Linked DNA regions of Homo sapiens: region 1 is linked to region 2. The links come from fine-mapping of genetic effects on gene expression. A gene starts in region 2. The other region holds a variant in brackets. All regions are shown on one strand. Distances are between the middles of the regions. Region 1 overlaps ZBTB8A (zinc finger and BTB domain containing 8A). Region 2 holds the start of RBBP4 (RB binding protein 4, chromatin remodeling factor).

Evidence for each region.
Region 1: its variant is fine-mapped to the expression of RBBP4 in monocytes (TOPMed, PIP 0.90).

Annotation. Positions count from the first base shown.
Region 1 is chr1:32,601,683-32,609,960 of GRCh38, forward strand. ZBTB8A (zinc finger and BTB domain containing 8A) reads left to right here. Exons shown (of 5, transcript NM_001040441.3): 5 at 1-4,259. It overlaps LOC102723870 (a long non-coding RNA gene), which reads right to left. Exons shown (of 3, transcript XR_426677.5): 3 at 6,867-7,645. Among named protein-coding and RNA genes, the nearest start is that of ZBTB8OS, 45 kb to the right of the region's middle. RefSeq lists an enhancer at 4,898-5,398. The variant G/A (reference allele first, on the strand shown) is at 4,668.
Region 2 is chr1:32,647,991-32,656,322 of GRCh38, forward strand. RBBP4 (RB binding protein 4, chromatin remodeling factor) reads left to right here and starts at 3,218. Exons shown (of 12, transcript NM_005610.3): 1 at 3,218-3,332; 2 at 3,924-4,071. The coding sequence starts at 3,317. ZBTB8OS (zinc finger and BTB domain containing 8 opposite strand) reads right to left here and starts at 2,560. Exons shown (of 7, transcript NM_178547.5): 1 at 2,443-2,560. The coding sequence starts at 2,539. RefSeq lists enhancers at 1,157-1,296, 2,430-3,017, 3,018-3,606, 3,767-3,866 and a silencer at 2,897-3,466.

The sequences.
Region 1 (8,278 bases), 46 kb before region 2:
TCTTTCAGCCTTCTCTCCCTGTATGTCTCCTGAAATGGCAAAGAATAGAAGTCAAACCTCACCAGTTGGCAGTCATTATAAAAATAAGCCAATCAGAATTAGAAAGTATGAAAGGAGGAATTGAATCATTTTCAACAACATACAATATCTTGATCTAGAGATTTTCAAATAATGCTAAGTAATGTCCCTACAGTACCTATTGGTATGTTTTTATGTCACGTTATTTATATGTAAATTTAAAGTATAAAACTATTTGAACAAATTATTCACTTAAATATGTTGAACATTTTTGCTTCTCTTGTTTATATAATATTTTCAAAACAAACTTTTCTCCTAGTATACAAAGTTTAAACTTCTCCCCTTTGGGCTGGGCCCAGTGGCTCACGCCTGTAATCCCAGCACTTTGGGAGGCTGAGGCAGGTGGATCACCGAGGTCGGGAGTTTGAGACCAGCCTGACCAACATGGAGAAACCCCGTCTCTACTAAAAATACAAAATTAGCCGGGCGTGGTGGTGCATGCCTGTAATCCCAGCTACTCAGAAGGCTGAGGCAGGAGGATAGCTTGAACCCAGGAGGCAGAGGCTGCGGTGGGCTGAGGTTGCGCCATTGCACTCCAGCCTGGGCAACAAGAGCGAAACTCCGTCTCAAAAAAAAAAAAAAAAAAAACTTCTCCCCTGCATAAATTATGAAACATTCCAAAATTACAGCTAAATTAGAGAAGCATTGTTTCAGTTCTAAAGGTAAAATCTAAATATCCGAAGTAAAGAACTGAGCTTCATAAAGGTCTCTTCTGCAAGTTATCACAGTGAAGCTTGATAGAATTTCACTGTATATGGAGAGGCTCCATCTATTTTACTGTTTTCTTTTTTGTTTTTGTTTTTTTTTCGAGACGGAGTCTCGCTCTGTCGCCCAGGCTGGAGTGCAGTGGTGCAATCTCAGCTCACTGCAAGCTCCACCTCCCGGGTTCTCGCCATTCTCCTGCCTCAGCCTCCCGAGTAGCTGGGACTTACAGGCGCCCACCACCACTCCCAGCTAATTTTTTGTATTTTTAATAGAGATGGGGTTTCACCGTGTTAGCCAGGATGGTCTCAATCTCCTGATCTCGTGATCCGCCCCCCTCGGCCTCCCAAAGTGCTGGGATTACAGGCGTGAGCCACTGCGCCCAGCCAATTTTACTGTATTTTTAAATGCCATGACATACCTCAAAATTATCCTTTTTATGTTACTATTTTCTCTTGTTCTTTCATTAATTATTGTCCTTGATACCAATTTCTAGGCTAAATTGGTTACTTTCTTTTAAAAAATTTAAAAATAGATGAATAACCACTTGTTTCATGGTACTTAATTGAGACTTTTTCAAGATTCCCCTGATGGCACATTTGCAGTTGCTTCAAGACTGGATGATGTGCATTGAGTTCTCTGTTCTCCCAACATGGCTGTTCCTAAATCAGGATTCTGGTTTTTTTGAGATGGACTCTCGCTCTGTTGTCCAAGCTGGAGTGCAGTGGCGTGATCTCGCTCACCACAACCTCTGCCTCCCGGGTTCAAGCGATTCTCCTGCCTCAGCCTCCTGAGTAGCCGGGACTACAGGCATGTGCCACCATGCCTGGCTAATTTTTGTATTTTTAGTAGAGACAGGGTTTCGCTATGTTGGCCAGGCTGGTCTCGAACTCCTGACCTCGTGATCTGCCCGCCTCAGCCTCCCAAAGTGCTGGGATTACAGGCGTGAGCCAGCACGCCCGGCCTAAATCAGGATTCTTAACAATTAAAGTGTATCTGAATGAGGAAGGAAACGCTTGTCATTCTCTAGTCTTACCCAATTAATACTGACACCTTTTGAAATTAAAACCTGATTTTTTAGTTGTTGGAGCCAGTAGGAAAAATGGCTGATTTGAACTTTTTTCCTATAAATGAAGTAGTGCTTGCATGTGTGTACTCTAATGCACTTTAGTCTATGATCTAAATGTCCTTTTATGCTATTATCTTCTGCATGCAAACTTTACATACATCAGCATGAATATCCAACATTCACTGAACACAGTGCCACCAGCACTTGTAATTGCCTTTTCAGAAATAATGCTTTCTCATAATTGTTTATAACGAGCATCAAACTATCCCCACAAAATGATCAAGTTCACCAAACTAGACAAAGAATCTGTTGTATCATTTTAACATCATAGAAGAACATTTAAGACATGTTTGTAAGTTGTAAATAATGACTCCAGTTATAGCATATATATCTAAGACGTTAGAGACCAGTTATTTTCTAGAGTGAAACTGTCTATTGATGATTGAGAAAATTGAATTCTTTGGTTTTTACATGTGGGCAAATGTTACATAGGGGTATAATCTGTTTAAATAAGCTTTATTTATGCCAAGGATTTTTTTTTTAATATCAAGACTTGGTTAGACCAAAGTTTGCTCTTGCAGGAATGCCATTTATCAGCTTCTGAATGCCCTTCTAACTCCATTACCCTCAAGAGTGTCTGGGTATAGGATGAAGCATTACAAAAAGAAAGCACCACTGCAGTCATGCCTAGTGTCTGGGAGAAACAAAATGGACTAGACCTGCAGTTTAAAATAATTTAACCCGAGAAACTCTTCAAATGAATTGTTTCCTAAAGATGCTCAAATTTAAGGGATAAACTCTAAAATCAGAGCTGCTGTGGTTAAAGTCCCCCACAAACCTTTCCCCAGACACCTCTGCAGAACTCAGGTGCACAATGTTGAAAACCATGGAATTAGACAACTTCCTGAATTCCCTTTGAGCCTTGCAGCCTCATTTCGTTACTCCTGTTACTCACGGTGCTTATAAGCAGGTAACCATATGGTCTCTTAGTGAAGCAAATCACATCCTTAGCACATGATGTTCCTTCTATGGGTATCAGATCTTAAGACTTTTTAAAATTTAGGAACAAATGTTTCAATATTATATTTTCAGTAATGCAATCAAAATAAGCATAGTTACTGTTTTCTGTACGGCTAAGTACTGCCTAATGGATGAAAGAAGTTTGGTGCTTCAATTATTTATGAGCTCAGAACTCAATTCATTAAAGTTATTTTGCCAAGTCATGCCAAGATATATTGAAATTTCCACTCATATTGGTTTTTAAAATTTTTTTTAGTCCTAAAATTAATAAGTATGGAAAATCACTAAAAGCAGTGTAGGATAAGGTGTGTTTAACTGGCCGGGCACGGTGGCTCATGCCTGTAATCCTAGCACTTTGGGAGGCCGAGGCGGGCGGATCACTTAAGGCCAGGTGTTCGAGACCATCCTGGCCAACATGGTGAAACCCCGTCTCTAGTAAAAATACAAAAAATAGCTGGGCATGATGGTGGGTGCCTGTAATCCCAGGTACTCGGGAGGCTGAGGCAGGAGAATCGCTTGAACCCGGGAGGTGGAGGTTGCAGTGGCCGAGATCGCACCACTGCACTCCAGCCTGGGTGACAGAGCGAGACTCCATCAAAAAAAAAAAAAAAAAAAAAAAAGATGTGTTTAACTGGGAAGGGTGATAATAATAGAATAATAGGTACAGGAGGACCAAACTTTAGATTATAAACCAGAAAGTTTTGTTATTTTATATAAGTGTATCAGTATTACTATTTATCATTTATATAGCATTTTATATTTGCAAAGTGTTTAATAATTTTTGTTATTCTTTACATATATATGAAATAGGACAGTTATCCCACATGAACGGTAAATAAATTGAGGCACAGAACAGTAAAAAAACCTCAGGGTCAGGCGTGGTGGCTCACACCTGTAATCCCAGCACTTTGGGAGGCCAAGGCGGGTGGATCACTTTAGGTCAAGAGTTGGAGACCAGCCTGGGGCAATATAGTGAAACCCCTTCTCTACTAAAAATACAAAAATTAGCCAGGCATGGTGGTGGGCACCTGTAATCCCAGCTACTCTGGGGGCTGAGACAGGAGAATTGCTTGAACTCAGGAGGCGGAGGTTGCAGTGAGCCAAGATCACGCTACTGCACTCCAGGCTGGGTGACAGAGCGAGACTCCACCTCAAAAAAAAAAAAAAAAAAAAAAAAAAGAACCTAAGACAACCCAGTGAAATGGTAGCAAAAAATAGGAAATATAATGATCACATTTTCTGAATCCTAGACCATCAGCCTAATTCACTGAGGTGTGTTGTGTATCACTCTATTTTATAGATGATTTTATATAAGTAACAGTGGATTGTTTTAAAGCTGACGTCATTGTATGTGGATACATTCTATATGGAATAAATGTTATGTAAAGGATGTGACTTTAGTTATGTCACAGGATCCTTAGGGTGTTGCTTTGCCACCAGCCAGAAACCTCTTGGCCGGTGGCTCCTCTGCTTGGGTTTTGCTTGTGCCTGCTGGGCTCATTCCACCCATGTGGACTGGCAGGCTGTGGTCCACTGGTGGTACCAGCCTGGATCTCATGCCTGCCGAGGGTGAGCCAGGCACGGAGTGACGGGTGTGTGAGTGAGCTAGCGTGGGGTCCGGCCACTGCACACAACCAGGCACACTGGCTGCAGTGGGGTGGACAGCTCTAGGCGCTGGCACAGGCACCAGCTCCATGCCAGGCTGCAGCGGGACCAGACGTACTGAAAGCGGCTTCCGCTGCGGGCATCAGCATTTGGACAAGTGGAACGCAGTGGTGCCCGAAAGCTCAGAGATGCC[G/A]GGAACTGCAGACCCCCAAAGAGGGTGTTACAGCATGTCACACCATGGCTCAGGGAGCCCCGAGGTCTGGGCTGCCAGAAGGGCTGCAGCTCTTCTCTCCTTCTCGTCGCCCACAACGTGGTGAGCAGGGAGCATGTTTCAGCCCTGCTTGTGTTACAGCTCTTTCAGTCCACCATTTGGTGGGTCCCGAGTTCTTTTCCTGCATCCGAGAAGAATGAGGTACGCAGACAACTGGAGGGTGAGCAAGGCCGAAAGGAGCTTCACTGAGCAACAGAACAGCTCTCAGGAGACCTGAAGTGGGTAGCTCCTTTCCACAGGGCAGAGAGGAGCTTCACTCTGCAACAGAACAGCTCTCAGGAGACCCGAAGTGGATAGCTCCTTTCCACAGGCAGGTCGACCTGATGAGTGTCCAGATGACCAGCTCTCACCCAAGAGGAGACCTGCAGGCAGGTCCTTTTAAGGAGACTCAAAGCGGGTAGCTCCTTCCTGCAGCTGGTAGTCCTGACAGCCGGCTGAGTCTGCTGAGACCAGGGGTTTTTATGGGCTCAGAAGGGAGGAAGTGCATGCTGCTTGGTCTGTGGGTGTCCATGGGCAGCCCAGAAAACACCACAAGTTCTTACTCTAGCCCTGGACTCCACCAGGAACTGCCAGACCAACCCCCAGGCTTCAGGCATTCCCTGGCTTGAAGGGGGGATTTCACTGGGAACCCACCCTTTTCCACCCAGGAACCTGTCTGCCTCCTGCCATCAACATGCCCTCCATGGTGCCCAGACTGTGCCAAGGGGCGCCTGCAGGCCCAAACCAAGCCACCGTCATCAACCCCCTGACTGGCTTCCCTCCCACGCACATGGGTGCCCAAAGTTTAGAGGGGGCTGAGGTGGCAGGGGGCTGGCGTGTCAGTGCCACCTCTAGCATGCTCAACCTGGCCAGGTCACGACAACACCTAGGTTTGGCCCAACTTTGCTCTGCAACAGAGCAGGTGCAGGAGCAGAAAGAGGCCAGGGAATGGGAGCAGGCACTTCTGAGCCTGTGGGCGCTGGGAGCTTCCCAAGCCCTGAAGAGTGCAGGGATGCCCAGGTCTGGAGCCGCAGCTGGGCGGCTGCAGCTGTGCCCAGAAGTGTGGGACTCCAGCCCTGCCGATTCAGTAGGGGCAGGGCTCCTGCCTGTAGCCAGCCCCTGTGGGCTTCGTGGAGCCGTGAGCCTCAGCTGCGTTTCCCTCACTGCAGCTGGCATCGCAGCAGCGGCTGTTACAGACGGGCCACTGGTGCCTTTAGTTACAAGAGTTTTAATGATAAAATTCAAGTTATCACAGAAATGGTAGTATATAGCCAGCTGTTTTATATATTGTGAAGTATAAGTAACATATAATTTTGATACAGGAGTTTCTTAACTATTCCTGCTAATGGACCTATGAATAGGCCAGAAAAATGAAATCCACCGAGAATCTGTAAACTTCATTTTCACGTCAGCCTTCTCCCCACAGAACTGTATTAATGCCACCAAAAAAGTAAAATATTTAAATATAATGTTAACAAGTAATGAACCACACAGCAATAGAAGCAAAGGGACTCTTGAAGTCAAAATATCTTGAAGTCAAAATATTTTGCAATTACTGAAATAGTATAACACTTTTCCCTACTCTTTCTTTTTTTTTTTTTTTCTTCAAACCATCAAAATCCGTTGCATACTTTCTCACCTTTAAATAGGAAACCAGAGGCTGGGTACAGTGGCTCACACCTGTAATCCCAGAATTTTGGGAGGCCGAGGTGGTCGGATCATTTGAGGCTAGGAGTTCAAGACCAGCCTGGCCAACATGGTAAAACCCCATCTCTATAAAAAATACAAAAATTAGCCTGGCGTGGTGCCGCATGCCTGTAATCCCAGCTACTCAGGAGGCCGAGGCACAATAATTGCTTGAACCTAGGAGGTGGAGGTTGCAGTGAGCTGAGATCACGCCACTGCACTCCAGCCTGGGTGACAGAGCAAGACTGTCTCAAAAAGAAAAAAGGAAACCAGAGACCAGGGAAATACCCTTTACCTTTACCTTTGCGCTTAGCTAGATCATTTGCAAGCAGAATTTTATACTTTGCCTGCTTTGCTCTTTCAGATTTCCAGATACACAATTCCATTATATAGTTTCTTGATTTTCCCCTTGGGAAAATCATTTATTTCCTTGTTGATATTACTTACAACTACTTATTTTCTTTATTAAAGAGAAACTTATTTTTATTCAGCCCATAAGGGAAAAAGGGAACAACATTTCTGCCTAGACCAGAGATCCTCAACTTTGGTTGCACATTAGAATCACCTGTGGATCTTTTAAAATACAGATGCCTAGGCAAATCAGAATCTCGGGCAGGTGGGGCTTGGGTGTAAGTATTTTTGCAAGCTAGGCTGGCTGGGCACGGTGGCTCACACCTGTAATTCCAGCACTTTGGGAGGCCAAGGCGGGTGGATCAGGAGGTCAAGAGATCGAGACCATCCCGGCCAACATGGTGAAACCCCATCTCTACTAAAAATACAAAAATTAGCTGGGTGTGGTGGCGCATGCCTGTAGTCCCAGCTACTCAGGAGGCTGAGGCAGGAGAATCGCTTGAACCCGGGAGGCGGAGTTTGCAGTGAGCTGAGATTGCGCCACTGCACTCCAGCCTGGCGACAGAACGAGACTCCGTCTGAAAAAAAAAAACCTAGGCTGGATACAGTGGCTCATGCCTGTAATCCCAACACTTTGGGAGACAGAGGTAGGAGGATTGCTTGAGCCTAGGAGTTTGAGACCAGCCTGGGCAACATAACAAGTCGCAGTCTCTACAAAAAATTTAAAAATTAGGTGGGCGTGGTGGCACATGCCTGTAGTCTCAGTTACTCAGGAGGCTCGGGTGGGAGGATCACTTGAGCCTTAGGATCACTGAGTGAAGGATGCAGTGAGCTATGATGGTGCCACTGCACTTCAGCCTGGACGATACAGCAAGATCTTGGCTCTAAAAATAAAAATAAATAAATAAATAAATAAATAAATAAATAAATAAATAAAAGCTTCCCAAAGTTTGTGACATGCAAAATAGGGCCCATTCAAGGTTTCCCTCTGTCCTCCCCATATAGATGCCAAGGAGAGGCAGTAGGACTATTTGACCTTACAGTCCACTGGTTCTCAACCGTATCATTAAGGAAAAATTTAAAAATAGAGGTGTCCAGTCCAGGAAAATATTTATTTTTGTAAAATTTCAAGACACACTGCATGTTCCATTATCTAAGGTTTTTAATAGAGACAAGTAATATCGACACTCTAATAAAATAATGAGTAGTCTTAAAATACCCCATTTTTATTTTGGGATGCATTTGCATTTTATTTGATTATGGGTATTGCATTCTGGGAATTCACACAGTATTTCAAACCAATAAAAGAACTATGTAATGAATACGTGACTGAAATACTACATACTGAAATTTTACAAGCTTTAATATTTTCTTTTTAAAGAAAGGAACCAGAACACTCCAAGCTCTGTAAAAGCTCAATTGCTACACTTTAGAATTCCATAAAATAATTGAATTAAGTCATTCTTTAGTTCCAGTTAAATGGAATACTAGAGAGGCAGGAAAATACTACTGTATTA
Region 2 (8,332 bases):
TGCATAAAAACACTTTCTGCCTAGTAAGAAAAACCAACAACCCAAGACAAAAAAAAAATAACCCAAGAGAAAAAAGGGCTAAGAATATTAACATACACACCCCAGAATGGGAAATACAAATAGCTTCCAAAACAGTATAATATGTTCAACTTCACTTACAATAAGAAAAATACAGTAAGTATACTTTACAAATTAGAAAAGATAAAAAAGTATGGTAACAATTAGTAGAAGTGGGAGGAAAGAGGCACATTCACACAATACTAGTGAAAGTATAAATTGGTACAACTCCTATAGAGAGCAATTTGGCAATAACTGTCCAAGTTAAAATATCCTTTTAAAAAATGTAGGAGTCTTAGCAATGGAAACAAAAAAAACTTGGAGAACTTGATTCTACAGATTCACTTGCACATGTACAAAACAGTGGATGTACAAGTGTATTCACTGCTGCACTGTTTCTAATACCACAAGAGTAGAAATAGCCTAAACGTCCATCAACTGAAAATTGGTTAAAGCAAATGCTAGAACATCTAGGTATGTACATGTAAGAAAAAGGTAACGATGACTGCTCTACAGAGGGGGACTAGGTAGTTGAGGATGGGGGCTGCCAGAGTTACTTTTCACTGCCTATGTTACACTTTCTGAATTTCAAATCAATATATATGACCTATTAAAAATAATTTTTTTTTGAGATGGAGTCTGGCTCTGTCGCCCAGGCTGGAGTGCAGTGGTGCAATCTCGGCTCACTGCAACCTCCGCCTCCCAGGTTCAAGCGATTCTCCTGCCTCAGCCGCCCAAGCAGCTGGGATTACAGGCACCCACCACCATGCCTAGCTAATTTTTGTATTTTTAGTAGAGATGGGGTTTCACCATGTTGGCCAGGCCAGGCTGATCTCAAGCTCCTGACCTCAGGTGATCCACCCGCCTCAACCTCCCAAAGTGCTGGGATTACAGGCGTGAGCCACAGCACCAGGCCTTTTTTTTTTTTTTTTTTTTTTTGAGACAGTCTCACTCTGTTGCCCAGGCTGGAGTGCAGTGGTGTGATCTCGGCTCACTGCAGCCTCCACCCTCCTGGGTTCAAGCAATTCTCCTGCCTCAGCCTCCCGAGTAGCTGGGATTACAGGCGCCCACCATCATGCGCAGCTAATTTTTGTATTTTTAGTAGAGACGGGGTTTCACCATGTTGGCCAGGCTGGTCTGGAACTCCTGACCTCAGGTGATCCACCCACGTCAGTCTCGCAAAGTGCTGGGATTATAAGTGTGAGCCACCGCAAACGGCCTATAATATTTTAAAATTGTTTTTAAGTGAGAGAAGGGGATATGCTAGGAGGTATGCCAGCTCCAGAAAGCACATTGCCTAGAATACTATGGTAAATAAGTAGATTTTACAGAGAGGACAATGAGAAATTAATGAAAGATTTTAAGCAGATAAATAAAAGTCAGATTTGTGCTCCCCAAACCACAGCTACCTTTAGGGATGACAGCTTAACGTTTAATATAGAATTTAAGAGACAAAGATAGGTTATGTGATTTGCCTAAAGTCACTAAGCGAATAAATGGCAAAACCAGCTGGGCACTGCAGCGCGGGCTATGATCGCTCCATTGCACTCCAGCCTGGACGACAGAGCGAGACCCCATCTCTAAAAACACACACACACACACACACACACACACACACACATTTTTTTTTTTTTTTGAGACAGAGTTTCGCTCGTTGCCCAGGCTGGAGTGCAATGGGGCGATCTCGGCTCACCGCAACCTCCGCCTCCCGGGTTCAAGCGATTCTCCTGCCTCAGTCTCCCGAGTAGCTGGGATTACAGACATGCTCCACCACGCCCAGCTAATTTTGTATTTTTAGTAGAGACGGGGTTTTTCCATGTTGGTCAGGCTGATCTCGAACTTCCGACCTCAGGTGATCCGCCCGCCTCGGCCTCCCAAAGTGCTGGGATCACAGGCCTCAGCCACCGAGCCCGGCCTAAAATAATCATTTTTAAAAATCACAATCATAAATGGCAAAACCAGGTTTTTTGCTAATATGATCGAGGTGAAACATCAAGTTAGAAATCCCCTAATTAGCTTTCCGAGTCCTCTAACCTCGCACACTCTAATCTCACCGTTGGGAAATACATGGGGGTAACAACCCTGCAAACGCCTGAAAATATGGTTATCTTTAGAATTTACGAAGATAAATGTGATTAGGCACATGTGGAAGAAGTTCAAGAGACTGTAAATGAGGGAGGCCAGGTTTCGCGACTATTAAACCAGGTGGCTTTTTCCTTCAGCATCCCCAGGAGAAGTACGAACGCGACTACAACAGCCGGCACAAATGGGATCATGCCTGAAGTACCCATGGGGCACAGTAGAAAGAGCAGCAGGAAGCCGCGGGTAAGGAGAGGGGATGCCTGTGTGCTTACATGTAAAGAGAGAAGTAAGCCACCTACTCACACTCGTACTTCCTATTGACTGGCGGATACTTGGCCTTGATCGCCTTCTGTTCTTCAGTCAAATTGTAATCTCTAACATCTTCCTCTTCCTGCGCCATGACTGCAGGATTAGACACTCTACTTCCGCCCTTCATCCACCGGACTTCGGCCCGGAGTTACTACTTCCGCTCTAGACTCCGCCCCTTGGCGCACACCCTTAAAGGACCACACTCCTTTCTCGGAGTTGGCTGTTGACCTACTTTAGTCCCTACCCTGCCGCTTGGATCGCATATTTAAAAAGCCAAAACCCCATCTTCTGCGATTCCTTCATTACTAGTTCTTTCCAAAGACTAAGGAAAAACGTTGAAGGGCACCTTGAATGAAACCCGTCTGGGTCTGACTGGCGAGGTTCTTTCCCCCGCTTCACCCCCAAAATTGATAACTAGACCCGAAGGCATTCTAGATTTTTCATCTCAGTACTCTGAAAGGGTCGTAAGCTTAATAGCCTTCAAGAAAATGGCTGCCCTCTTGCCGCGGGAGTGTGCGGACCAAACCTCTCTCACGTGACCCTGACCGGGCGCAGTCCCGTCAACGCCGGCGCGCGCAATCGCTGGAAGTCGGCTCGGGGAGGCGTGGGGGGAGGGGCGGAGCGCGCGCCTCGGTCCCCGCGGAAAGCTACTCCGCGCGTCTGGATTGGTCGCGAACGCGGCTTCCCCGCCCATCCCGCCATTAGGAGCGCTCCCATTGGCTGATGTTGGCGCGAAGGTGCGCGAGTCAGCCCTCGCGCTGGGGGCGCAGGAAACAATAGAGGCCGCGCGCACAGAGCGAGCTCTTGCAGCCTCCCCGCCCCTCCCGCAACGCTCGACCCCAGGATTCCCCCGGCTCGCCTGCCCGCCATGGCCGACAAGGAAGGTGAGGGTGCCGGGGCCGACCCAGGAGGGCAGTGGGTGCCTGGGCTGAGCCGCGGCCTCGACATGGCCTAACAGTGAGGGCAGGCCCGAGTTTGCCGAGTGCAGTCCCCGGTACTGAAGGCGTGAAGAGGGAACTCCCCGCGGGGCGTGCTAACGGCTCGCCAGTTCCCTGGGACCGATTTCGGTCGCAGCTGGCGAAGCCAGCGGTGGGGCCCCCGGCCAGTGTTTGTTTCTCTTCCTGCCTCCGATATCGGTTTCTCGGCCTCTGTCCCGAGCGTGGGGACACCGCTTCCTACCCACAAGGCTCGGAGCTCGGGCCTCCTCGTCGGGCTTGTGAGTTTCGGCGCGCACGAGCGTGCTCCGAAGGCCTGGCTGGCCCCTTGGCCTGGAACGGGTAACGGAGTGTTTGGCGGGGATGGCCCGAGGAGTTTCGGCGCCGCGAAAGTGGAGAGTGTGGATGCCTCTGCCGTGGGGATTTAGACAAATCACCTCCATTTCATGGTTAGGCTGTAGGAGTCATGCAGGTGGCTTTGCAGAGGATTACTCGGTTTCCGTTTGTTTGCTAACTTAAATTTGTTTTTAAAAATTTTAGCAGCCTTCGACGACGCAGTGGAAGAACGAGTGATCAACGAGGAATACAAAATATGGAAAAAGAACACCCCTTTTCTTTATGATTTGGTGATGACCCATGCTCTGGAGTGGCCCAGCCTAACTGCCCAGTGGCTTCCAGATGTAACCAGGTGACATGACTCTCCCGAACGTTATTTTGATGTATTTTCAGTGTAGATTTCTCATATTGATTTTCTTTTTTCCGCTCTTCAGTCACCCGGAGAAGGCATGTGATCAAAACCTCTTGGTGACATTTTTTCTAGGCCACAAAGTAAGGCAAAATAACAAAATGATTTTGTAACTTACCTGACAAGAGAAAACATATTGGCGTTTTTTTCTCAATACTGAATTAAATAGCTGTAGCTGATGATAATACCTGTAATAATAGTGGCTGTACCAAATAATAGTACAAAACTTGTCAACTTTCAAAAAGTATTATGGCCAGGAGCAGTGGCTCACACTTGGAATCCGAGCACTTTGGGAGGCCCAGGCAGGAGACTTACTTGAGGCCAGGAGTTGGAGACCAGCCCTGGGAATACCCTCGTCTCTACTGCCCCCCACACAAAAAAAGAAAAAAGTATTACAATGAGTCTAGTCCTTACAACAAAAATTTTTTGTTTTTCTTTTTGAGACGGTGTCTCACTCTGTTGTCCAGGCTGGAGTGCAGTGGCGCGAGCTCGACTCACTGCAACCTCTGCCTCCCAGATTCGAGCGATTCTCCTGCCTAAGCCCTCCCAAGTAGCTGGGATTACAGGCACCTGCCACCACGCCTGGCTAAATTTTTTTGTATTTTTAGTAGAGACGGGGTTTTACCATGTGGGACAGGCTGGTCTCCAACCCCCTGACCTCTGGTGATCCGCCCGCCTCTGCCTCCCAAAGTGCCGGGATTACAGGCGTGAGCCACTGCACCTGGCCTCAACAAAACTTAATTTGAATTCTCGTAGTATGTCATGGTACCTGCCTTCAAGGAGCACATTGTCTAGTTGAAGTGGCAGATATAAACTAATAATTATAGTTATATATGGTGACAGCAGTTGTAGAGAGATAATTAGGGTACCTAGAAAACACCTGAAGGTGGAATGGCTTTCTTATAAGGGGTTTGGGCATAGTGAGGGCTAAAAGATTAATCCTATGTTTCTTACGTGTAGGTAGCTTATCTCTAGTAGAGGGGATAAAATAGCTTGCATTTATTGGGGCTGTATTTGGTGCTACATATCGGGGATCCAAATTAGTTATAATTAGCATAAAAGTGGTACAGATAAAATTATCAGAGGAAGGAAAATTTGCCTCAATTTGCCTCATTTCTTAGGAAGAAATGACAATGCAAAAAACAAAGAGGAGGGTAAATTTAGATGATATTAACATAGTTTTAACAAGACCATTGTGCCATTTGGAATAATGGATTTTCTGGTACAAAAGTAAGTTTTCTGAATTACATTCAAAAGCGATTGTATGCTAAGTAAATTCCTTCAAAACTTGGATCTTTAAAAGTTAAGATAATTGCAAAATGTTATTAGACTATGATGTAGCTCAACAAATGATAGAAATTTGGCAGAAATTATACTAGTAACTTAAGAATGAGGCTGCTACCTTTACAGTGGCATAAGGAAAAATAGGGAAATGTGTCCTAGGGATGTTACACAAAACCATAGTAAAAACCTAGAAATTGGGAGTTAGAAGCTGCTTTGTGTGTTTTTTGTTTTCTGGTTTTTTTTTTTTTTTTTTTTTTGTTTTTGTTTTTTTTTTTGAGACGGAGTCTCCTCTCTTGCCCAGGCTGGAGTGCAGTCACGTGATCTCCGCTGACTGCAAGCTCCGCCTCCCGGGTTCACGCCATTTTCCTGCCTCAGCTTCCCAAGTAGCTGGGACTACAGGTGCCGGCCACTACCCCTGGCTAATTTTTTGTATTTTTAGTAGAGCCGGGGTTTCACCGTGTTAGCCAGGATGGTCTCAATCTCCTGACCTCATGATCCACCCGCCTCGGCCTTCCAAAGTGCTGGGATTACAGGCGTGAGCCACCGCGCCCGGCCTAGAAGCTTCTTTATCATGACCAGGAGTTCCCACATGCAATTGATCATCAGAATTGCTTGGGGAATTCAGGATAATTGGAATCATTTCTGTCAAGAGTTTTCAGTGGTAATTCAAACCATTTAGGAACTTATGGGCTGGTCATGGTGGCTCACACGTGTAATCCCAGCACTTTGGGAGGCTGAGGCAGGCAGATTGCTTGAGGCCAGGAGTTCCAGACCAGCCTGGGCAACATGGTGAAAAGCCCGTCTCTACTAAAATTACAAATATTATCCGGGCATGGTGGTGCGTACCTGTTAGTCCCAGCTCCTCAGTGGGGGCTGAGGCAGGAGGATCACCTGAGCCTTGGGAGGTCAAGGCTGCATTGAGCTGTGATCCTGCTACTGCACTCCAGCCTGAGCTAGGGATTGCCACCCTGTCTCAAAGAAAAAGAACTTGTGGCAGAGTACTTAATGAGAAGTGTACTGGAATGGTGATTCCACATTTACTATAGTCATATGCTAAATTGTGCTTATTGGACTAGTGGATCACAAATATTGGCCATCCCATACCTACTAAACATTCTAGAACCCCTACTTTTCAGAAACTTCCCAAGTAATATAATAGAATGACTAGCTAGGTTTCGAAAGCAAGAATTAAAGACTTAATTCCCCAAGGCTGAAATCTGTACTGTCATCTTAGTAGTTTTCTGCATTAGCAAATCTAGATAAATAATGTGAGAATTGTTTTTTGTTGTTGTTGTTGTTTTGAGACGGAGGACGGAGTTTCACTCTTGTTACTCATACTGGAGTGCAGTGGCATGATCTGAGCTCACTGCAACCTCCGCCTCCTGGGTTCAATCGATTCTCCTGCCCCAGCCTCCCAAGTAGCTGGGATTACAGGCACCCGCCACCACGCCCAGCTAATTTTTTGTATTTTTAGTAGAGATGGGGTTTCACCATGTTGTCCAGGCTGGTCTTGAACTCCTGACCTCAGGTAATCCACCCGCTTCGGCCTCCCAAAGTGCTGGGATTACAGGCGTGAGCTAGTGCACCTGGCTGAAAATTGTTTTTGAGACAGGATCTTGCTTTGTTGCCCAGACTGTGTTGCAGTGGCACGATCAGAGTTCCCTGCAGCCTTGACCTCCTGGGCCAAGGAATCCTCCTGCCTCAGCCTCTGGAATAGTTGGGGCTACAGGCACACGCTACCATACCTGGCTAATTTTTGAAAAATTTTTTTGCTATGTTGTCCAGACTGTTCTTTAACTTCTGGGCTCCAGTGATCCTCCCACTTTGACCTCCCAAAGTGCTGGGATTACAGACATGAGCCACCGTGCCTGGCCCTGTTTTTGTTTTTTAAGATGAGGATTACTTACAAGCAAGCAGCCCTGATGCAGTGTTTACTTTTGTGTGTGTTCTTTTTCTGGTGTTTACCCAGATCCGTTTCCCCCCTTTAAAAAGAAAGAAAAACCACGGTTGTAGTTCTGTAACACTGTCCTCTCCTTCATTCTTTTTCTGGTTCTTGTCTAACCTTCTACATACAGGTAATTCCAATTTTCTGTTCATATCTCTCTTCATTTCTTTTCAGTGTAATGTAGAAGCTCTCAGAGCTTTGCCTGTGACATCTGTGCAGAAGAATTCCTATTGATATCTTTAGACCTCACTTCTCCAGAGCTTTTCCTGATTTTTCTTCTGCCTGCCCGTGTCTTCCCTGGTATATCTTACTGGCTTCCCCAGTTTGACATGTTGTAAATGGAATTATTCCTTACGTGAAGGCCTTACCCCAACTTTCTCTCCTGTTGTTCCTATTTCTTTTCATCATAATTGGCTTTAGTTTGACATTTTCTCTTTCTCCATTTTATAGGCAGTCAATTTATAAACCCCAATGAATTCTGGTTGTGTAGCATCTTTCCCATCTAGGCCAGGGGTTCTCAAAATTTTATATGCATCATAATCAGCTGGAGGTACTGTGAAACAGTTAGTTGTGCCCCACCTTCTAGAGTTTCTGATTCAATGGGTCTGGAGTAGATGTGAGAATTTGCGTTTCTAACAAGTTCCCAGATGATGTGGATGCCCTTGACCCAGTATGGAGTACAGAATGCCTTAAGACGGCATTCAGAACACTAAATAGTCAGTTTTAATCGGCCTTCTCTCCCACTGTGCTTTCCCATATCAGAAGTCAGATTTGGACTTCAGCATACTTGTTACTTAGTAGCTGTGTGATCTTAGGCAAATTGTTTAATTTTCTTTCTTTTATTTATTTTTTTCTTTTTTGAGACAGGAAGTAGTCTTTCTCTGTCACCCAGGCTGGAGTGCAGTAACACGATCTCTGCTCACTGCAGCCTCCGCCTTTCGGGTTCAAGCGATTCTTGTGCCTCAGCCTCCCAAG